Linked DNA regions of Homo sapiens: region 2 is linked to region 1. A link means that fine-mapping ties the variant in region 1 to the plasma level of a protein whose gene starts in the linked region. Region 1 holds a variant in brackets. A gene starts in the other region. All regions are shown on their reverse strands.

Evidence for each region. A credible set is the group of variants that fine-mapping cannot tell apart. PIP is the chance, under the fine-mapping model, that this variant and not a neighbour inherited with it causes the effect. The UK Biobank Pharma Proteomics Project read protein levels with antibody pairs (Olink). The fine-mapping took linkage between variants from a reference panel, not from the people measured, so its PIPs are less certain.
Region 2: it holds the start of CXCL6, and the variant in region 1 is the best candidate, but not a certain one, in a credible set for the plasma level of the CXCL6 protein (UK Biobank, PIP 0.83).

Annotation. Positions count from the first base shown.
Region 1 is chr2:218,150,848-218,162,787 of GRCh38, reverse strand. No RefSeq gene overlaps it. Among named protein-coding and RNA genes, the nearest start is that of CXCR1, 10 kb to the left of the region's middle. The variant T/G (reference allele first, on the strand shown) is at 813.
Region 2 is chr4:73,825,687-73,837,499 of GRCh38, reverse strand. It overlaps CXCL6 (C-X-C motif chemokine ligand 6), which reads right to left and starts at 822. Exons shown (of 4, transcript NM_002993.4): 1 at 641-822; 2 at 404-536; 3 at 214-297. The coding sequence starts at 749. RefSeq lists silencers at 554-848, 4,454-4,748.

The DNA of each region.
Region 1 (11,940 bases):
TCTGTCCTCTCCGCTTTCAGCCTCCGTCTGTCCACTTATTAAGTTTGCCTTTGTGGTTTAGCTTCATTAGATGTTTATCTGTGTAAAAATGTCCCAAGTGAGGACTTAAGATGTCAGGGCTCTTCTGATGGCAAATGATAGAAAGAGAAGTCAAACTAGCTTAAGCAAAACTGAGAGTGTGGGTTTAGCCTGTGTGGGGAAGGATCAGGGAAGGCTTGAGGTTGGGAATAGGGTGAGGCTCAGAGACAGGACCTAGATCAAGCTTCAGATGGGGATCAGTGATTGATGTTGAAATCAAAGCTGGGATGGGGGCAGGGATGGGGTGGCAGCTTGGGATGAGGTCAGAGAAGGATGAATGCCAGGAATCGGTAGAGATCTACAAGGAGGGAGAGTGAGAGTCAGGGTCACAGTGAGGTGTTGGGAACAGGGAGATTCAACATGGAGCTGGGACCAGATATGGAGAGTGAGACTTTGGAATGGGATAAGTGTGGGGGAGTGGTGAGGCTCAGGGAGGGGGTGTCAGGCCTGGAATGAATATCAGGGAAGGCTTAGTAGCTATAAGGCTGGAGCAGAAGACGTGCCTGGTAGGGTCACCATCCTATCTGGAGCATCATCTAAGATCCTCTTCCGGGGCCAAAAGACAGAGGCTCCTCAGTCTGTCCTGCTTAAGACTCTCCAGGCAGGTGAGTGAGGAGGGAGTTAGGCACTCGAGCCCTAAGAGATAGACCTGATTCAGCAGAGAAGACAAGAAGGATGCAAAGGATGCACAGAGAATCTAGGGCAGAAGGCTGAGAACTGGGGCCTCCTTTTCC[T/G]CTCCTCCCTCCGCTGATCTCCCTCCACCTCTCCTACTGTTTCCTCAAAGTCCAACTTCCTCCTTCTTCACCTTATGCTCCTGCAAGGACAACTCCATCAGAGGCTTCAGTAAGTAAATAGGGATCCACACTGGGTCCAGGGGAAATGCAAATGACTCATAACCTCATGAAAAATGCTCAGTCTCACTAGGAACTAAATGAGGCTCAAACAGCAACAAAATAACTCAGAAGTGTTTTAAACAGGGGAGGGATATAGTGGACTCTTCAAACAAGTGCAACATTTTTCGATTGGATTTTTTTTTTTTTTTTAATGAGACAGGGTCTTGCTCTGTCACCCAGGCTGGAGTGCAGTGGTGCATACACAGCTCACTGCAGCCTCAACCTTCTGAGTTCAGGTGATCCTCCAACCTCAGTTTCCAGAGTAGCTGGGACCAGAGCTGTGCGCCATTATGCCCAGATAATTTTTAAAATTTTTTGTAGATATGGAGTCTTGCCACGTTGCCCAGGCTGGTCTTGGACCCCTGAGCTCAAGTGATCTGCCTGCTTCGGCCTCCTAAAGTGCTGGGATTACAGGTGTGAGCCACTGCACCCAGGCTGATTGGAAATTCTAATGCAGCCTGTAATTTTCTGGGTATAGCTCAAGACACAAATGATTTGGATTTCAGATTTTTAAAAAATGTCAGGATTTTGGTACTTAGTTAACAGCATATTGAAGTACCAAAAACTGATATTTCAATTACTAGATAGGGTGAGGATTAGATCCAGTCAGAGCCAGGGAGAGTGTTTGCCTTAAGGAGGGACTCCCTTGTCCAGGATGGGGCTGGCACTAGGGATGGGGTGAATCTTAGGACAGGAGTGGGGGTCAGAAATGGGAGGGGTCAGTGATGAGATTGGGATTACAGAGGGGATGTACATCAGGGTAAGGTGAGGGACGGGGATTAGGATGTAACGGCATGTTCTGCACAATGCTTCCTGATGTTAAAATCCTAAAGTTTGTTTTGTAGCCTTGGTGACAACGTTTGAGACTCTAAATCAAAATGTGAAAATCTACTGTTTTCCCCTAAACCAGTTCCACTTCTGACCAACCACAGCCTCTCACCACCCCTTGCCCTCCATCCCCTGGCCCATTCTTGTTAATTCCAGCAAAAATACTAATTGACAATCAACATTTTATGCCATAGAGGTAAAATTTGCCCCTTTCTCAGCAAAGTAGTATTTTAATAAGAGTCTTTCAGAGACTGAAAAATCTCATAGATGCAAATGAGTAACATGACAATCTCCTCTTTGGTCTAAGGATCGTCCCAAAGAGGTGCCTTCCTAGAGAAGACCACTCACCAAGAGACAGTGGTGGAGCCCTGTCTTTTGCCGTTTCCATGCAGAGGTCAGAGAGGCCACTCTAGGTTCCACCCAGAAAGCCACAAGGAGCTAACGGCGGAGCTCTCAGCACCAATGTTTTCTTGCAGCCTGGTATTCAGTTTTTAAATCCAAAGTCTTCCTTCCAACCTTCAGGGTAGAAATGAATCAAAGACATAATAAATAAAAAATAATCGAAATATGTTAACTCGACTTTTTAAGATTAAATTTTCTTTCTATTGTCTAAGTATTTTATACACATTGTTGAAAAAACGAAATGGCTTTATGAAGCTTATAACAAAAAACCAGCAGCCTTCCAGCTCCAATCCCTGCAGACAAGGGCAGCAGCTGTCAGCTCTCATAGCTGTTTCATCGGATAGTGATCTATATATTTCTAAATATCATACTTGTTCTGCTAGTTTTTTTCTTTTTTTTGGTCTCACTCAGTCTCCCAGGCTGGAGTGCAGTGGCATGATCTCAGCTCACTGCAACCTCCGCCTCCCTGGTTTAAGTCATTCTCCCACCTCAGCCTCCTGAGTAGCTGGGACTATAGGTGCCCGCCATTACGCCTGGCTAATTATTGCATTTTTTGGTAGAGACAGGGTTTCACCATGTTGGCCAGGCCAGTTCATCACTTGAACTCCTGACCTCAAGTGATCCCCCCACCTCAGCCTCCCAAAGTGCTGGGATTACAAGTGTGAGCCACTGTGACCAGCCCTCTGCTAGTTCTTGTTTTTCTCCCCCTCCAGGTTTAGCTATCATCACTGACTCTCTCTTTTGGCTTTGAGAATGTAATATTCTCCCAGTCCCTCTCCTGCTTTCACCCCAATCCAAGCAAACACAAATACTGCCTTCTCCATTCTCCAGAAACAGATGCCACATTTTTTGGTTAAGTCGACATTCAATTTTTTTGTTATTATGACTATGTAAAAAATTATTCACAGTAGGATCCAATTTTTTTTGTACAAGTTTTGTTTTCCCTGGAATTGATGAGAGGATGTTCCATGTACTTATCATGACATCAGTTCCAATGTCTCCCTCAATACATTCACACTCAGCGGATAATCTATTAATTTTTCTTTCTCAAAGACCTCTCTCCGGGAGTCCTTCATTGTCTTCTTCCAACCTGGACAGGTGACTCTTAGGAAAGGGGCCAGTTCCTCTTTACTAAATTGCTTTGACTATGTTTCCAGAGAAATTTTAGAATCTGCTTATCAATTTCTATATAATGTCCAGCTGGGATTTTGATTTGGATTATGTAGAATTCATAGATCAATTTAGAGAAAATTGACATTGTCATATTGAGTCTTCCAGTCCATGGGCACGATATCTTTCTCTATTTATGTCTTCTTTAATTTTTTTGCAAAGGATGTTTTATAGTTCTTGGTACACAAATCTTGTACATACTTTGCAAAATTTGTCCCTAAGTATTTTATGGGTTTTTTGGATGCGATTACAAATGATATCTTAAAAAGTTTTCATTTTCCAGTTCTTTTTTTGGTTACCATAGTATATAGAAATACAGTTGCAGTATGTATATTGACCTTGTAACTTGGGACCTAAGTAAATTCATTTATTGGTTCTAGTAGATTTTTTTAAAGATTGCTTTGGATTTTAACTGTATGCCATCATTTCAGAATTTAAATCTTCTTTTTAGTTTTAGAATGCATGATGTGTACCTTGGTGGTGTTTTTCTTCATTCATTGTGCTGGGCGCCTGGTAAATTTTCTTAATCTGGAAATTTAGGTTATGTAAATTTATCTGGTATTAGTTCTTTGACAGTGTTCCACCCTTCGTTTTCCTTATTCTTTAATTTTTTTAAAAGAATTATTCTATTTTATTTTATTTTTGAGACAGGATCTCACTGTATCACCTATGCTGGAATGCAGTGGCCCAATCTCAGCTCACTGCAGCCTTGACCTCCCAGGCTCAAGGAATCCTCCTACCTCAGCCTATTAAGTAGCTGGGACTACAGGTGTGTGCCACCATGCCTGCCTGGCTAGTTTTAAATTTTTAAATAGAGTCGGGGTCTCCCTATGTCACCCAGGCTGGTCTCCAACTCCTGGGCCCAAGTGATCCCCTCTCCTTGTCTTCCAAAGTGCTAGGATTACAGGTTGAGTCACTGCACCCTGCCTATTTAAAAAAAAAAAATTAAAAAATCCTCCTGCCTCAGCCTCCTGAGTAGCTGGGGCTACAGGCATGCAACACCACCTTTGGCTAATTAAAAAAAAATTTGTAGAGACAGAATCTTACTATGTTGCCCAGGCTCGTCTTGAACTCCTAGGCTCAAGCAGTCCTTCTTCCTTGGCCTCCCAAATTTCCGGAATTTCAGGCATGAGCCACCAAGCTTGACCTATTTAAAAAAAAAAATTTAGGGGCTGGGTGCGGTGGCTCACGCCTATAATTCCTGCCCTTTGGGAATCCAGGGCGGGAGGATCATTTGAGTCAAGGAGTTCAAGGCCAGCCCGGGCAACATGGTGAAACCCCATCTCCACAAAAAAATACACACATGCACAAAATTAGCTGGGCATGGTGGAATGCACCTACTCTGGGGGCTAAGGTGGGAGGATTGTTTGATCCTGGGAGGCAGAGGTTGCAGTGAGCCAAGATTGCACCACTGCCTTCCAGCCTGGGCAACAGAGTGAGACCTTGTCTCAAAAAAAAAATCCTCCTTCCTTAGCCCCCAGGTAGCTCGGACTACAGGCACGCAACACCATCTCTGGCTAATGTTTAAAATATTTTTTGGAGAGATGGAGTCTCACTATGTTTCCCAGGCTGGTCTTGATCCCCTGGCCTCAAGTGATTCTCCCACCTCTGCCTCTCGAAGTGTTGGGATTATAGGTGTGAGTCACTGTGCGTGGCAAAAAATATACTTATTTTAAAGTCAGATCCAAATTGCTTTATTATCTTTAGCTCCTCAGGTGTGAATTCTCCCATTTGCTGTTGACTGACTGTTGATTGTGATGATTGTCAGCTCTTTGTAACATTTTATTGTTAATTCATCTTTTGAAGGCATTTTTTTGTTTCATGGGAGTCTTGCATGTGCCCTGGATTATGAAGAAGTCTATTCAGGGGTGGCTTTATGGCTGTACCTGCTAGGGCCTTACTGGGTTACATAGCTCAGAGCATTTTTTGTTATTGATATTTCTTGGCCCTGAGTTTCCACACCATTGCAAATGACAGATTTGGGTCCTCATCACTTGATACTAGGGCTTGGGATTCTGGAATGTTCCTCAATTGGCCCCTTTTCTCTCATGACCTAGGAAGGCAGCTCACTTGGGGGTTGTGTCTCAGGCTGCAAAGTGCTTTTCTATCCCCATTCAAGGGCATGGCAGCTCTTTCTTGGTCCTGACAATTTTATAGGCAATCAAGTTGTAGTTTCTGCTATACATGGGGCCTTTAGGGTCACTGGTATTATCATTCCCATCCTTAAGGTACATGATCAATTCTAGTATCTTTCTGGGTTCCTCTGGCTTTAATCCTACTCCCTGATAAGTCCATACATTTTTAAGCTCCCTCTTCATTTCTGGCCCTTGGAGATTTTTTCTCTCTCTCTTGCCTGCTATTGACCTCAGATATTTATTTTTAAAAATTAATTAATTCATTCATTTATTTTTGAGACAGAGTCTCACTCTATTTCTCAGGCTGGAGTGCAGTGGCGTGATCTCAGCTTACTGCAACCTCTCCCTCCCGGGTTCAAGCAATTCTCCTGCCTCAGCCTCCTAAGTAGCTGGGATTACAGGCACCCACCACCATGCCAGCTAATTTTGGTATTTTTAGTAGAGACGGGGTTTTGTCATGTTGGCCAGGCTGGTCTCAAACTCCTGACCTCAGGTGATCCGCCCGCCTCGGCCTCCCAAAGTGTTGGGATTACAGGCATAAGCCACCACGCCCAGCCTTTTTAAAAATTAAAAAAAAAGTTATTTAGGATGCCTATGGAGGGCATGTTTGTGTTGCTGATTTGCTGCTATGCCTCTTCAGCCAGCCCATTATCATGACCAGAAATTCAGATAGCACATCAAACGAAAAACAAAGTTCCTTTTCTTGTTTTTTATTTCCCTTTCTTATGTTAAAACCTTCTTCCAGAAAATGTTATGTACCCCAGGAGGATACATTGACGGGATTTCTAGGTAACCCACAGTGTGTACGTGCATGTTGCTTATGCATGGGTGCATATGTATGTCTGTTTTGGGGATGAATGACCCAACGTTATTCCAGAACTATCACCCCCTTTTTTTTAGCCAGGCTTGCATCAGGGGGATGGAAGAAGTAAGATCTAGAAGGTAAATGGGGAGGGACCGCTGAAGAAATCTAGTCACTTCCGACATGGGAAGGAATTGTGTTGCCCAACTGAAACCTAAGAGGCCACATCCGTACCTCTCCCTTGGTTCCCATACTGTAAACAACATGGCTGTCTTCCTGAAAGAGGTGACTTTGCTCCAGCTTTAAAGGTATTGGGGGTGTGGGGAGACTAGGCAGGTACAGGTCTCAGGGCTGTGCAGTGCAGGGTTCCCCACTTGGCCAGCATACTTGAGCACTCCTCTGAGTGGGACCCTGGCAAGACTCAGCATGTACTGTCTTTGTGCACATTCCCACATGTTCCTAAGTGAGAATCCGCTAGTTGTCTGATTATGTAACAAATGCTTGTTTGCATCCAACTCCGTGCTAGGTCTTAAAACAAAGTAATGGGCCAGGCTCAGTGGCTCATGCCTGGAATCTCAGCACTTTGGGAGCTGAGGTGGGCGGATCATCTGAGATCAGGAGTTCGAGACCAGCCTGGCCAACATGGTGAAACCTGGTCTCTACTAAAAATACAAAAAAATTACCTGGGTGTGGCGGTGGGCACCTGTAATCCCAGCTACTTGGGAGGCTGAGACAGGAGAATTGCTTGAACCCAGGAGGCAGAGGTTGCAGTGAACCAAGATTGTGACACTGCACTTCAGCCTGGGTGACAGAGCAAGACTCTATTTCAAACAAACAAACAAACAAACAAACAAACAAACAAACAAAGTAATGTACTAAAGAAATAAAATCTAAGGGGACAAAGGAAATGTGTGAATGGAGGGTATGTGAGGAGTTTATGAAATTTCCTGTAGGGTCACTGGAACAAAGAGATCTATCTGGGGGTCCTAGTGTACCACAAGCTGAACCTGAAGATTTGGAAAAATGTTTCTAATTAAATAAAACAGAGCAAAAAGACAGACTTAGTTGCTGTGTTACTTGAATCTTCACTTAAATTTTCAGAACCTTGGTTTCCGCTCCCATAAAATGAAGTTTGAATAGGCAAGCTTCCTTCCAGTTCTAAGAATGGGAGATGCTCGAAATCTAAGAGTGTACTGCGATGGACAAACAGGACTATAGCTCTAGTGAACTTGACATGAAACATCCATCTTTGCCCAGATCGTGATTATCCACAATTAGGTGCCCTGTGAAGGCCAGTTCTTAGTATGTGTTTTCCAGGCAGCTGCTGACCAAGTCTGACCTGAGGAGTTCCTAGAAGGCCTCTCTCTGTCCCCTTCTCTTTCTCCTCTCTTCCACCTCCCCATCCAATATTTCCCTCCCTGGTCTGTCAGCCATTCTTTTATTTGGCCTAGGCAGGCCTCTTAGAAAAAGAGCAAATGCCCCTGGGTTGGGGGAATTCTTTCAGTCATTAAGCCAGGGATGAGAATGGAGTTTTGAAATTGTTCTCCAGCATAGGATCCTCTTTTCTAAGCCTTCAACTTCATGAGCAAATGGGCACACTCCAGTCCAACGTGTAAGCTCAGCCTCTCACTAACAGGTAGGTCTGTGCTCACTGGTAGGACCGCACTTTGGACTTAGATGCTAACATTAATCTGTTGGAAGATTTTGCAAGGAGACAGAGAGAGGAGCAATCTGGGATTCCTGAGGGCTTTGTTGCAAGGGAAGAGCAACGAGTTGTTGAAAGGCACCCAGGCCGGGTGCAGTGGCTTACACCTGTAATCCCAGCACTTTGGGAGGCTGAGGCGGGTGGATCACTTGAGGTCAGGAGTTTGAGACCAGCCTGGCCAACATGGCAAAACCCTTTCTCTACTAAAAATACAAAAATTAGCCAGGCATGGTGGCGCACACCTGTAGTATTCCCAGCTACTGGGGAGGCTGAGGCAGGAGAATCGCTTTGAGCCCAAGAGGTGGTGGTTGCAGTGAGCTGAGATCGCACCACTGCACTCCAGCCTGGGTGACAGAGTGAGACTCTGTCCCCCCCCCCCCAAAAAAAAAAGACCCAAAGATCAGCTGCTTCCGCCCTATTTCCATGAAATTGTCACTTTGATCCCTGAATTCTATTTTAGATTCTACAACACAAGGAGAACCCTTATCTAAATCCTTATATGTATAGTGTGTTTCCCGTGATATCATAATTGAAGACTTACTCTGTGCCAGGCACTGAAAAAAACACTTTTTACATAAATTATTTTATTTAATGGTCATCAAGACCTGATGGTAGGAATTATTATTATCCTTATTTTACAGAAGAGGAAAATAAGGGCCAAAGAGATTAAGTCCCTCACTCAAGATAACAGCAGCGGGTAAGTGGCAAAACTGGAGTTTAAGTCAAGGACCAGCTGCCTTCGGAGTCTGAGCTCTCAACTGCTGTGTGACACACAGAGAGGTGCTGTGGTGGAGAGAGAGCCACAGGGTGAATTTGCGGTAGCCTAGGGCTTAGTCTATCCCGACTTGTGTGATCGTGAGCAAGTAATTTAACTTCTCTGGACCCCTCCCTCCTTGAAGGGATGGCAGCATTGGAAGCTTGTTGTCAAGGTTCAGGGTAATGTATGCCAGGCTTTCAGGGTAGACTAAGGTCTCCATAAATGGCAAACATTATTTATCACAGCAGAGAAGTCTTGGAAAGGCAAGTCCACTGGGAAATCGGGATGTAACTCCAAATCCTCTAACTGTGATGGCAGTGTTTCCTACATGATGTCATAGCTCCAGGGAGTTGGGAGGAGAGTTGAGATATACCTCTTTCCAAGAGATGTTTTGAGATGAAAAGATAAAGCTTGGAAAGTGATCAAGGTATATCCTTGTTCCTGTGACATCCATTTTTTTCTCTTCTGGATTGCCCATCAGCTCACAAGCCTGTTGTAGGAGTTCCCATCTTATAACAACCCTCCCTTGATCCCACATCTCATCAGCTACGGTCCTATTTTTCTGCTCCACTTTGCAGCTAAGGTCTGAGGCCCACTGCTCAAAGGGTGCTTCAAGTCTGTGAGGGGAGATTAGCAACATTGAGCAGAGTCTCAGTTTGAACCTAAACTGGGCTCACTCTGGAATTCACGTAAGTCAGTGCAAGCAATGTCCCTGAAAGAAATGAAGGGTTGAGAGCTCTTAGGGAGGAGCTCATTTCTGGGGGTCAGGAGGAAAGCACACAGGCCTGCTAAAGGCAATGCCTCAGGGTTGGGGCTTAGGGAGACCTTGAGGGCTACAGGAGTTGAGTGCTGAGGCCAAGACCAACCCAGGTCCAGGGCTTCTCACCTAAGTAGTAGGGAGATGGGGCTGGGAGTGAAAGTGAAAAAAACTGGGGAGATTTTGGCAGTGCCAGCAACACACTCAGGGAAACCTGGCCCTGTTCCCCTGCAGGTGGCCGGGTTGGAACTGGTAGAGGGTGGAGGCAAACTTGGCAAATGGGTACAGGCAGCCTCAGGGATGCATGTGGGAGGAGGGACCTTGGAAGGCTACCTGAGGTGCTGAGTCACAGGCTGACTCATGGGGTACACAGGTACAGAGTGTGAACACAGAAAGAGCCAAAAAAAGGGTAAAAAAAGAAAAAAAGCACTCATATTTCCACCACTCAAAGTCAACCCAGTGCACATTTTGGTTTATTGCCTTCTAGCATTAAAAAACAATAAAGAGTTGATTTTTCAGAGTGGTTTTAGGTTCACAGCAAAATTGAACAGAAAACCTTCTAGTAATTTTTCTTTACTTTACTTTTTTTTTTCTTTTGAGTTAGAATTTTGCTCTTCTCGCCCAGGCTGGAGTGCAATGGTGTGATCTCGGCACACTGCAACCTCTGCCTCCTGGGTTCAAGCGATTCTCCTGCCTCAGCCTCCCGAGTAGCTGGGATTTCAGGCACCTGCCATCATGCCCGGCTAATTTTTGCATTTTTAGTAGCGATGGGATTTCACCATGTTGGCCAGGATAGTCTTGAACTCCTGACCTCAGGTGATACACCCGCCTCGGCTTCCCAAAGTACTGAGATTAAAGGTGTGAGCCACTGCGCCCAGCCACATTTTTTCATTGCGGTATTTCTTCTTGAATGTTTCAATGTCATGTGTCATAGCATCACAATGTCTTGTCAGTACAGCTTAGGTTCATACTATTTTCGTTGAATAATTTAATGCAGTTTTCATGTTATTATGTTTCAATCTTTTTTCATTTTTAAAAATCAGCCTACATCATGCTTTGATTTCATGTTATTATCATATTTAACATTTCCTTGCCTGTTATATTCCTCCCACTTAGTGATTTTCTCCGGCTTTCTCCTGGCCTCTTGTTATTTTGGTCACTTTCCTCTCTAGCTTGCCATCCCAAGGTTGTGCATGGTCTTGCTTTCTCTCTCAGCTAGTTGCCTCCCATTGACCTAAGAAACTAAGGCTGCTGGGCCGGAGGCTCCTCAGCAATTTGACGCCTCACCAGCATCCACACTTACTCTCCTCTCCTCCCTGTCTCTCATCTGATGTCCAGGGAGGAGGTGGCCTCTGCTCCTTCTATTTGGTTGAATCCCCCTGCAGTGCCTGATCCACCCACCTCCTCAGCAATGTTGAACCTGCTCTGGCTTCCTGCCCCCTCTTACCCCACTGTTGTGTCAACCTCTCCCAGTCTTCAGCTCCTTCCCTAGGTCTCTGCATATGGGATTTCCGGACAACACTTCCTCTCTGTAGCATTTGACCCTATTTGTATCCTTTCTTCATTTATGAAAAAAAAATGGAGCAATGTCTGTGTGTCAGGCCTCCCGCAGTACCTGAGGAACAGCAGGAGCAAAGTGTTCACAAATCCCTGCCCTACAAAAGCCTAAATCCACACCTCTTGCCTGATTTTTTTTTTTTTTTGAGATGGAGTCTCGCTCTGTCTTCCAGGCTGGAGTGCAGTGGCGTGATCTCGGCTTACTGCAAGCTCTGCCTCCCGGGTTCACGCCATTCTCCTGCCTCAGCCTCCTGAGTAGCTGGGACTACAGGCGCCTACCACCACGCCCAGCTAATTTTTTGTATTTTTAGTAGAGACGGGGTTTCACCGTGTTTGCCAGGATGGTCTCGATCTTCTGACCTTGTGATCCACCCGCCTCTGCCTCCCAAAGTGCTGGGATTACAGGTGTGAGCCACCATGCCCGGCCTCCTCTTGCCTGATTTTTTAAAAAACCACAAATCCCCAGATTCATAGTATGAAAAGGAGAAAATTTTATAAATTTATAAAAAATTTATAAAAGATTATCTTGGGGGTTAGGGGTTGTGGCTCACACTTATAATCCCAGTGTTTTGAGATGCCAAAGAGGGAGGATCATTTATAGCCAGGAGTTTGAGACCAGCCTGGGCAACATAGTGAGACCCCTGTCTCTATAAAAAATTAACACAATTAAAAAACATTAAAAAATGAGAAGATTCAGAAAAACTAAAGAAGACCATAATAGTCTATTTCCCCACTTATAGATAACCACTGTCTACTCGTGGTATATCCTGCCGTACCTTGGTCTATGCATGTAACACTTTAAAAAACAAAATAAAAATGTGGTATTTTGTAGCCTTATTTGTTTTTCTCTCAGTAG
Region 2 (11,813 bases), not on the chromosome of region 1:
TGTCAGTAATGAGCTCTGTGTAATTGTTCAGGCATGTAAGATTGGTGATAAAGGTTTACCCAGAACATTCCAGAAAAAAAGTTTCCTTATTCTTCTTAACAACCTTATAATTCTAAGCATAGTCTAAATCCTACAGAGAGAATAAGGACATTGTGAAGTATATGCTTTCCATAGAAGATATTAAAACACCACAAAGATCAAAGGGACAAATACCTGTCCAAAATTTTCTGGATGACTTTCTTTAGAAAAGGGGCTTCCGGGTCCAGACAAACTTGCTTCCCGTTCTTCAGGGAGGCTCTGAAGTAAAGAAAAAGAGGATGCACCCATGAGCCACAAAGGTTGACGACCCAGGCTGGAGGACTTGCCTAAGTCACAGTGGACACAGCAACACAGGAGAACTTACACCACTTCCACCTTGGAGCACTGCGGGCCTGCGGGGAACACCTGCAGTTTACCAATCGTTTTGGGGTTTACTCTCAGCGTAACGCGTAAACAAGTGCAACGCAGCTCTGTCAGCACAGCAGAGACAGGACCAGCTGGGGAAGAAAGACATTTTTATAGGGCAGGTTGCTGGGAGAGTTCCCTGGAACGCAGCGGCCCCGCAGAGGCTGGGATGCACCCCAGTGCCAGGAGCTCTCACCGCTGGCGAGGGGCCCCGGCGGCGTCAGCAGGAGCAGCAGCGCGAGCAGCGCGCACAAGGAGCCCGAAGGACCCGGGACACGGGCCGCGCGGCTGGACGGGAGGCTCATAGTGGTCAAGAGAGGGTTCGCGGGTTCCTGAGCTGGGTGGAGGCGCGGAGACTGGAGGATACAGAGCACTTTGGTTTCCTCGTGCCTTCTGCACTCCCTTTATCTGCATTCATCCCTCCCGACTGGCAGGAAACTCAAGCTTTGGGATGCTGGGGAAATTCCCTGAACTCAGGGGGCAGTGTGGAAAGAAGGGGTTGGTGGAGGGGGGCGGGAGGATGGGAATTGGTGGGGTGGGTGGCTGGGAGGAGCTGCCTGCTCCCTTAAGGGGGAGGACATTTTAGCCCCGCCCCGCGGTGGAGGGAGCTGTGGCTCCAGCCAAAATAGAGCAGCGATTCAGCAGGGTCTCATCCCCTGGGCTTGAGGGGTTAGCGAGGCTGGCTTCTCTGAGGCACGCAGCTGTCTGGGAGATGCTCCTCCTCTCCAATGGCCAGGACAATTAGGCAGGAGAAGGAAATAAAGGGTATTCAATTAGGAAAAGAGGAAGTCAAATTGTCCCTATTTGCAAATTACATAATTGTATATCTAGAAAACCCCATGGTCTCAGCCCAAAATCTCCTTAAGCTGATAAGCAACTTCAGCAAAGTCTCAGGATACAAAATCAATGCACAAAAATCACAAGCATTCTTATACACCAATAACAAACAAACAGAGACATGGTCTCAGCCCAAAATCTCCTTAAGCTGATAAGCAACTTCAGCAAAGTCTCAGGATACAAAATCAATGCACAAAAATCACAAGCATTCTTATACACCAATAACAAACAAACAGAGAGCCAAATCATGAGTGAACTCCCATTCACAATTGCTTCAAAGAGAATAAAATACCTAGGAATCCAACTTACAAGGGACATGAAGGACCTCTTCAAGGAGAACTACAAACCACTGCTCAATGAAATAAAAGAGGATACAAACAAATGGAAGAATATTCCATGCTCATGGGTAGGAAAAATCAATATCGTGAATATGGCCATACTGCCCAAGGTAACTTATAGATTCAATACCATCCCCATCAAGCTACCAATGACTTTCTTCACAGAATTGGAAAAAACTACTTGAAAGTTCATATGGAACCAAAAAAGAGCCCGCATGGCCAAGTCAATCCTAAGCCAAAAGAACCAAGCTGGAGGCATCACGCTACCTGACTTCAAACTATACTACAAGGCTACAGTAACCAAAACAGCATGGTACTGGTACCAAAACAGAGATATAGATCAATGGAACAGAACAGAGCCCTCAGAAATAATGCCGCATATCTACAACTATCTGATCTTTGACAAACCTGAGAAAAACAAGCAATAGGGAAAGGATTCCCTATTTAATAAATGGTGCTGGGAAAACTGGCTAGCCATATGTAGAAAGCTGAAACTGGATCCCTTCCTTACACCTTATACAAAAATTAATTCAAGATGGATTAAAGACTTAAACGTTAGACCTGAAACCATAAAAACCCTAGAAGAAAACCTAGGCATTACCCATTCAGGACATAGGCATGGGCAAGGTCTTCATGTATAAAACACCAAAAGCAATGGCAACAAAAGCCAAAATTGACAAATGGGATCTAATTAAACTCAAGAGCTTCTGCACAGCAAAAGAAACTACCATCAGAGTGAACAGGCAACCTACAAAATGGGAGAAAATTTTCGCGACCTACTCATCTGACAAAGGGCTAATATCCAGAACCTACAATGAACTCAAACAAATTTACAACAAAAAAACAAACAACCCCATCAAAAAGTGGATGAAGGACATGAACAGACACTTCTCAAGACATTTATGCAGCCAAAAAACACATGAAACAATGCTCACCATCACTGGCCATCAGAGAAATGCAAATCAAAACCACAATGAGATACCATCTCACACCAGTTAGAATGGCAATCATTAAAAAGTCAGGAAACAACAGGTGCTGGAGAGGATGTGGAGAAATGGGAACACTTTTACACTGTTGGTGGGACTGTAAACTAGTTCAACCAGTGTGGAAGTCAGTGTGGCGATTCCTCAGGGATCTAGAACTACAAATACCATTTGACCCAGCCGTCCCATTACTGGGTATATACCCAAAGGACTATAAATCATGCTGCTATAAAGACACATGCACACGAATGTTTATTGCAGCACTATTCACAATAGCAAAGACTTGGAACCAACCCAAATGTCCAACAATGATAGACTGGATTAAGAAAATGTGGCACATATACACCATGGAATACTATGCAGCCATAAAAAAGGATGAGTTCATGTCCTTTGTAGGGACGTGGATGAAATTGGAAATCATCATTCTCAGTAAACTATCGCAAGGACAAAAAACCAAACACCGCATGTTCTCACTCATAGGTGGGAATTGAACAAGGAGAACACATGGACACAGGAAGGGGAACATCACACTCTGGGGACTGTTGTGGGCTGGGGGGAGGGGGGAGGGATAGCATTAGGAGATGTACCTAATGCTAAATGACGAGTTAATGGGTGCAGCACACCAGCATGGCACATGTATAGATATGTAACTAACCTGCACATTGTGCACATGTACCCTAAAACTTAAAGTATAATAATAATAAAATTAAAAAAAAGAGAGAAAAGTTGGAACCATAGTAGTGGAAGCTTTGACTTGAGAAAAATTTCTGAAAGTCAATCCTTTCTAATTATTATTACTATTATTCAGGAAATGTTATTCATGATTATTGCCCTAAACTGAGAGTCCTTCCTCTTCTTGCAGGCAGGTCATTCTAGGTTTCTTGAATGACTTTTTGATTATCTGGATTTCAAACAGCTTTAGAAGCCAAGATAACGTGATGAAAGAGGCTCTATCCCCACCTGAAGTCAACAAGTTGCCTGAATTGGCCCCAAAGTGAAATCTGTTTATTAGAAATTGTATACTTGTAGTTTAGCAAGCATATGTGTGTTGAGGCAGTTTAATAAACAAAAATATCTTCAAACAAAAATCACCCAGCAAATTGCCATGGAAGATAAAATGTACTTTTGGCGGTTGCTATGCTATTGAATTGGAAGAGGTTTTGGTCTTATTGGGAGTGAAGTGTAGTATGGTGAGCATAGACTGAAGTTTGCCAGGGAGCCCGGGCCTGCCCCAGCTCTGGTCCCACCCCCAGGTGTGTTTTTGACACCATTTGGAGATGCTGTAGGAGGTTGATGAATTTGAGGGGCTCATGTGAAAGCTTCTTCTAGAGATTTGCATCAATTGGGCAGCATAATAGCACCCAGTCTGTTTTCCCCCAAACAACCTCATGGGGGGAGGAATTCTCCCCATAGGCTTCTGGAACCATCTAATTTCATGATTACTGGTGACCAAGGCTGTTTCTGCAGACCTGTTCTAGTCCCCAGTGAGCCCTGCACTGCCTCCTGAAATTGAAGGGTGAAGTAGCTTCCAGCTTCTCCCTCTCTCCTTCTTTGTTATCCGTGGAGGAGTTAAAGCACTGAAGGTTTAAGTGTCTTCCACCGTCTTGCTCCATGGCAGGCATGAGTACGGCACTGGAATGGCACATAGACTTTCTTTCACAGAAGTCTAACTAGATCCTCTTCTGGCTGGTTCTGAAGAACTTTGTCCTCAGTGCAGGCCAGCAAAGGTCATCAGTAAACATGACGGCATTGAGAAGCCAGTTATGGAACACAACTCTTTTCCTTGTCCCTTGTGACACTGGGGAATTTTATTAACTTCCTCTCCTGTCACCTCCATTGGTGAGCAAGAAAGAGGTGTCACAGACCTTTACAATTTTGATTCTGGAAGGAAACAAGAAATTCATTGGCTGAGGAAGGCTGGGTGGTTTGGCCTTCAGTTTGTGGGAAGCTAAATGAGAAGTTCTCACAGCTTCCTGACACCATCAACATCATACCTGACTCAGCAAATGGAATCCTTCATCTTTTTGGGGAGTGGTAATCTGTAGAAAACAGCCTGCAGATTTAGCATATTGACATTTTAAAGATTAGAATGTGTCTAAAGACAAAAGATAAGCCTTGCTGAAATGGCTAAGACAAAACTTCAAAAATGTGACTCAGCTCCTAGGCAATTAATTCAACTTAACCACAGGGAATAAACCACAGTATAAGGCTTTGTTTAAAAAAAAGTTTAGAGATGACATAGGTTATTGACTTTTAAACTCTCTCTCCCTGTCTGTATGTGGGTTAGTTCTGAATAAGCCATTTTAAACATAAATGAACATATGAATTTGTTTTTGGCACCAAATGGTAAAATCAGAGAGGAATCATGAGACAAGATTGCCAGTTCCTCCTGATGGTCTTATAAGTACACATGTCTTACCTGCTTTGCACTCTGAATCAATTCACAAAGGATTATTTATAGAATGTAAGAAGAAAAAATATTTCTGCAGTTGATAAGCAAGTAATAGAAAGTCCCCAATAAAAGTGAGTTGTTGGGTTACCCAACCTAATCAGGAAGCAATGTGTCGCTTTTCCTGGCTTCCCATGAAAATCAGCCTGGGTCATTGTCCATGTCTGGCTTCTATCTAGGCATTCTCTGATGTTGGCCTTGTAAAAATACAGGAGGGAACATGAATGATGCAAAGATCCCCTGAGGTTAAGATGGAAAGCATGAAGAACTACGACAGACATAGGACTTTAAAAGTCATTGCTCCCTTTTCACTAGTTTAAAGGAAAACCATTTGTGTTACCTGCACTGTGTCCAGCTGGTAGAGAAAAGCTCTGTGTTATTTTTGTTCCCAACAATAAGGGAAAAATTCTTCCAATGCCATTTGCATCCTGATGGCCTGAAAAGTTTACTCCCTGTCAAAATCAATCCTATTTTAGTCATTGTACCACAGATTAATATAATATGAATGAAAACATTCCAAAGAGTTTGTGGCGTTCAAAACACTTTTATGCTCATTATTTCTTGAGCTTCACATTTATTCTTTGAGGCTGATTAAAAAAAAAAAAATCTCTCTCCCAGAGAATGAGTTAAGTAATAGAAAATCCAGAATTGGCAGTTAAACACCAGAGAACGTGCCCCAGTAATTTTTAATAGTTTCCAGATTACAAACCACTTTCTTCACAGTTGCTGGCAAACACCCCACAGTGGCTTTCCACAATCTGGGTAACCACTTTATTATATTTCCCAGAAACCACATTTTAAGTTATTGAGAACCTCAATCCATTCACTCCTATCTTTGGGACCACAGTAATATCAAGGGTAAAAGAGACTTCCAACATATTCAACTTGAAACCACTTTCTATATCCCTCACTTTCTTCAAGGCAAATTCAAAGTCCTGTCTTTGAAAAAGCTTATTCTGACAAAGCCAGAATAGAGTATTCCTTCCACCTTTGCTCTTCGAACATCTAGTGTACTTACAATAACCACTGCATGAGGCAGAGTTTAATTACTCCTTAATTTTACTTTTATCTCCCTCAAGTCAACTACGAACTCCTTAAAATCAGTGACGATATCTTACATTTCTCACACAACCTCACATAATTTCTTAGTTCAACAGCGAACAGTCTATGAGCACTTGGTGATGGATAATGATAACAACTTTTTAATTTTACGGTGTTCTTTACCTTACAAGTAGATCTTAAAGAGAAAAGAATGGGGCTGTTTATTGTCATTAACTCCTGTATTTTTTTAAACTTTACAATTTTGAATTGGCTGCCTCCTATGTGGGAAATTATTTCTGGGTTATTCTTAGGGAAAGTTAGAATGATATCAACGATATTTTCTGTCTTTGAATTCAAACTGTTCAAAAGAATGTTCAGAATCCGGCAAGGCACTTGATATTAAAAGAAAAAATACATATAACTAATGTATTAACCAAATTACATAGTTTTTGTGACATAGAGATTGTTGGAGATAAATGACAATGGAAAAATCTGATTACATTACACTGCGTTGAATGTTAACAGTGTGTGTATGTCATTCTAAATTGATTTTTTCTAACTAGAGAAGCCTTTAATTATATGATTTAGTATTTGGCTTAGGTTAGGCCTTTTCAAATGTTTTTTCCAAGATTTTATTTTTTATATTCACCATTCTTTGTATTACCTTTAAGAAATGCTATATAATTGCAATAATTATTATCAGGTTAAGCATATCAAGTGTTTCAGTATAAGGAAGGCAATAAGAGTTTAAGTGGAGGATAGAGTAACTTGCATGTATGCAAAGAAAAAGGAAAAAACACCAGCAACTGCTGAGTTTACTTTGCAATGTGAATGCAGTCTGTCTCCTAAATTGAGCTGGTAGTCCAATGAAGAAGTACTATCATCCAGGGAATGACTTTGCTCCAGGGTTGCTTCACCTTTGCTTTGAAATGCCAGGAATATTTTTCTTCCTTTTGCCAATTATCTAATTTTCCTTGCTGCTCATTTCAGATTATATCTGTTTGAGGACTAAATCAATGAACCTTGACTTAGTCTGTACTGAGCTAGATTTCAAATAATCATAGCTGGGCTTCTCTTCCCCACCTCTTGTGTGGATGGGGCAGCTAGTTATCTGTTGTCCAACTGTGCAAACGTTAGAAAAGTTTTTGTTGACAACAAGAGTTGCTACATAGGATAAAAAAAGATAAGAATTAAAGTTTTAAATGTTTCTAAAAGCCTTAAGTTTTTCAGAAACAGGAAGTCTTCATTGCTTTCTTCAAAAATTTCTTCTGGGCTAAGGAAAGATATATATATATATATATATATATATGTATGTATATTTTAATGTTAGATATTTTAAATAACTTTGAGAAGGCATTTCTATACTACAAAAGTCTTTTATGTAAGTTAGATTTCTAATACTGTGCTAAATAATGCTTGTTTGATATATAATTTCTGATCAACATTACCTTCATAACTTGTATTTTTCAGCAGATACTGTCTTCTGTATTACTTCATAATATATTTAATTCTCATTTAATATATAGTAGAACCTCAGGATTGCCGTTTTAATAGGAATAATTGTAATATATTTGTATATGTGTGATTTTTGTATTTCCTAGACATTCAAAACCGTCTTTTTCCTTCCTTGTCACTGCTTGAAAAAATAGGGAAGACCTAACATTTGACAAGTATCCCAGGCAATGTTCATGAACTTAAAAGACAAACACACAAGTACACCACCACTACCACCAGTGCCCTCACCACATCGACAAAACAAAGATCAAAAGAAAAAAATAAGAAAAAAATATGTCTTAGAGTTGATTTTTTGCCACTAATTCATTAAATCTCATTATGAATTTCCAGTGAATAACTATTTTCATGCATATTTTAAATGTTATTTTTTAGTATAAGAATTGGGAATTAGGAAATTGCTCACACTGACATAAAAGGTGTTGCAATGCCAAGCCAAAAGTCACAAAATCCTAGAAATTCTGGCTAATGTTGGACTATAAGTTTCTTACTAGCATTTTGGGATTTTAAAGCGTGACTTCCTCTGAAGAGTAAATTGACCAAATTGCTTTAACAAAATATTTTACTTTGAATCATTTTGATTTCCAAAAATTGCAGTATTAGTAAATCAGACAGGAAGTTATTTTCTTTGGAACACAATATATTTCTGACGTTAGAAACAGTTTTGACTTTTTTTCCCTAACTTGAATTTGAGACCAGACTGATGAATGCTATGACCGGGAGGGATTATGTCATAGAACAGGAAAACATGTGGTGGCTCATGTATTAGAAATAGACCACAATGTTGCTGTGCACAAGACCGTTCTTTGTAGTAAATGGAAGTTGTGAAAGTTTTGTATTGAACTATATCCAGCCAGCTTTCTGTGATGGTTTGAAAAAAAATTGCTTAAATTCAGGCATATACAGATTGAAAATCAAAGAATGGAAAGAAAAACACCATGCAACCAGTACCATATGAAGTCTAGAGTGGCCTTATAAATATTCAGCAAAACAGACTGCAAGAAAACAAGTATTATCAGAGATACATAAGCACATTTCATAATGATAAATGGTCAATAAATAAAAAAAATTATAAATTTATACATGCTTACTAAATAAGCTTCAAATTACATGAAACAAAACTACCAATTAGAACTTACAACAGGTATTATCTTCAATCACAGTTAGAAATTTTAATACCGTTAAGTAACTAATAGAAGTAGACAAAAATATTAATTAATGTACAAATGATTTGAATAACACTTGATCTACTTCAAAAAGAGCAAGACAATTATTTCTAGTCTCAGTATTTCAACTCTATTTTATGCTAATGGTTATAGGCAGTGAAGTAAGTTTTAAAAAAGAAATAAAGACATAAAAATGAAAAAGGAAGAAATAAAACTGTCCTTATTTGCAGATAAAATTGTCATTAATACAGAAAACTAAAAATAAATTATAAAATATACTGAACCAATAAGTGAATTTAATAAAATTTGAAGATAAAAAGACAATATGTAAAAGTCTACTTTATTTCTGTGTTATACCAGCAAAATATTTGAAAATAGAATTTTTAAAATACCATTTACCATAGCATCAGAATTATAAAACACTTAAGAATAAATTGAACAAAAGATGAACAAGAATTCTATGCTGTATATCACAAGGCTGCAAAAAAAAAAGATAAAAAGACTGAAGCAAATAACAAAGTGTCAATATCATGTTTATAAATTAGAAAACTCAAAATTGCTAAGCTGATAATTCTCCCCAAGTCAGTGTGCACATTCAATGCAACGTTAAATAAAAATCACATTAAGCTGTTTTTGAGAAATTGATACATCACTTATACCATTTATATGAATAAGCAAAGACTTATAACAGCTCAATTTTGAAAAAGAAGAACAAAGAGAAACCACACTATCTGATTTCAAGGCACAATATAAAACACATTAACAAGGACAGTTGGAGTAAGGAGAGACAGAGAGACCCATGAAACCAATTAAAGTACAGGAACAGATACAGATATGCCATCTGTTGAATTTTCATAATGGTTCCTAGGAAATTCAATGAACAGTAATATTTTGAAAGAAAATTATTTTTTTCCCGAGCAGTAGGTCTCAACAGTGGGCTCAAAATATTCAATAAGCCATGCTGTAAACTGTTGTCAAAAGAGTTTTACCATTTCATACTCCCACCCACAAAGGAAGTGTGCCCTGACTACTCCATATCATCATCATCATTCTTTTTAAAATTGTAGCTACTGGTAGGCATTTAGTAGTATCCCATTAAGCTTTTAATTATTATTTCATGATTACTAATGATGTTGAACACCTTTAAGGATGCTTGCTTGCCATTTGTAAATCTCCCTTGTAAAGTGTATTTTCAATTCTTTTGCTCATTGAGAATGCACATAGTCATGTAAGAATTCTGATGGAGATGTACAAAGAAATTAATGTTGCCTTTATGCCTGTGAACACAAAATCTATTCTGCAGCCCATGGATCAAAAAGTAATTTTGACTTTCAAATAGTATTATTTAAGACATACGTTTTGTAAGGCTGTAGCTGCCAGAGATAGTGATTCTTTTGATGGATCTGGGAAAAATAAATTGAAAAATTTTGGGTAAGGATTCATCATTCTAAGTACTGTTAACATTTGTGATTCATAGAAGGAAGTCAAAATGTCAACATTAACAGGAGTTTGGAAGAAGTTGATTTCAACCTTCATGGATAGTTTTAAGAAGTTCAATACTTCAATGGAGGAAATAACTGCAGATGTGGTAGAAATAGTAAGACAATTAGAAGTGGAGCCCGAAGATGTGACTGAATGCTACAATGTCATCACAAAACTTGAATAAATGAAGAATTACTTCTTATGGATGAACAAAGAGTGGTTTCTTGAAATGGAATCTACTCCTGGTGAAAATGCTGTGATGATTGTTGAAATGATAACAAAGGATACGGAGTATTACATCATAAATTTTGTTGATAAAGCAACATCAGGAATTGAAAGGATTGACTCCAATTTTGGAAGAGGTTCTGCTGTGGATAAAATGCTGCCAAACAACATAATGTGCTATAGAGAAATCTTTTGTGAAAGGAAGAGTCAATCAATGCCACAAATCTCATTGCTGACTTCTTTTAAGAAATTGCCACAGCCACCTCAACCATCAGCAGCCAACTTCCTGATCAGTGAGCAGCCATCAACATTGAGGCAAGACTCTCCACCAGGAAAAGTATTATGACGTGGTGAAGGCTTAAACAATTGTTAGCAGTTTTTAGTAATAAAGTATTTTAAAGTTAAGGGATTCTTATTTTGTAGACACAATGCCATAGCACACTTAATAGACTACAGTATCATGTAAACACAACTTTTATATGCACAGGGAAACAAAAAAATTTTGCGACTCACTTTATTTTGATATTCATTTTCTTGCAGTGGTCTGGAACCAAACCCACAATATATCTGCAATGTTCCTGTAAATAAGTAGGGCCTCGAGAAAGGGATTGTCCATGTGTCATATTTTGGAAAAAAAGTTGAGCAAGATTTAAATAAATAGGTAGTTATGATTACTTCTTCATCCTCAATGAGTGACATGCTGAATGCTGCTAAGGGTAGATATTCAATGGTGGCAACAAGAAAGCATTATAATTTTAGTGCTCCTTTAAATGGAAGTGGATTATTTGCTAGTTTTAGGTTAGGTGCTATGTGGCACTGTGGGAGTAACAAGTTGATAGAATATGCTGACTCTGCTGCTGTGGGTACGCAGGAGGAAAACACATTAGTTAGTATTTCAAAATATGATCCTGTTCTGTAAGCCTGTCCCAAAATTACAATAACTGACTCCAATAATCCATCGACTTTGATTCCAGTATTGACAACGTGTTTCACAAAGTTTAATTAAATCATTTTTGTTTTATATTCAATTGGCAGTCTCACATTTGCATTTGATGTCTTCTTCCATTTTGGGCCAATCAATTAATCAATCAGTCAATCTAACCTGGACTCACATTAGTTTTCTGGGGCAAAATTAATTCTGGTTTATCTACAAAATTTTTTTTTTCTGGAATAACTCAGTTTTTACCCTTCTGAAGTGTTTTCTATTGTTCTCTCCTATCCTCTGTTATGGTTCAGATTCTTTCACTGTGAATTTCTGTAAGAACATTCTTTAATGAAAAAGTTCTGCATACTTTTTGCCATCATGTGATTTATAGTACACTATGAAGTTACCGTG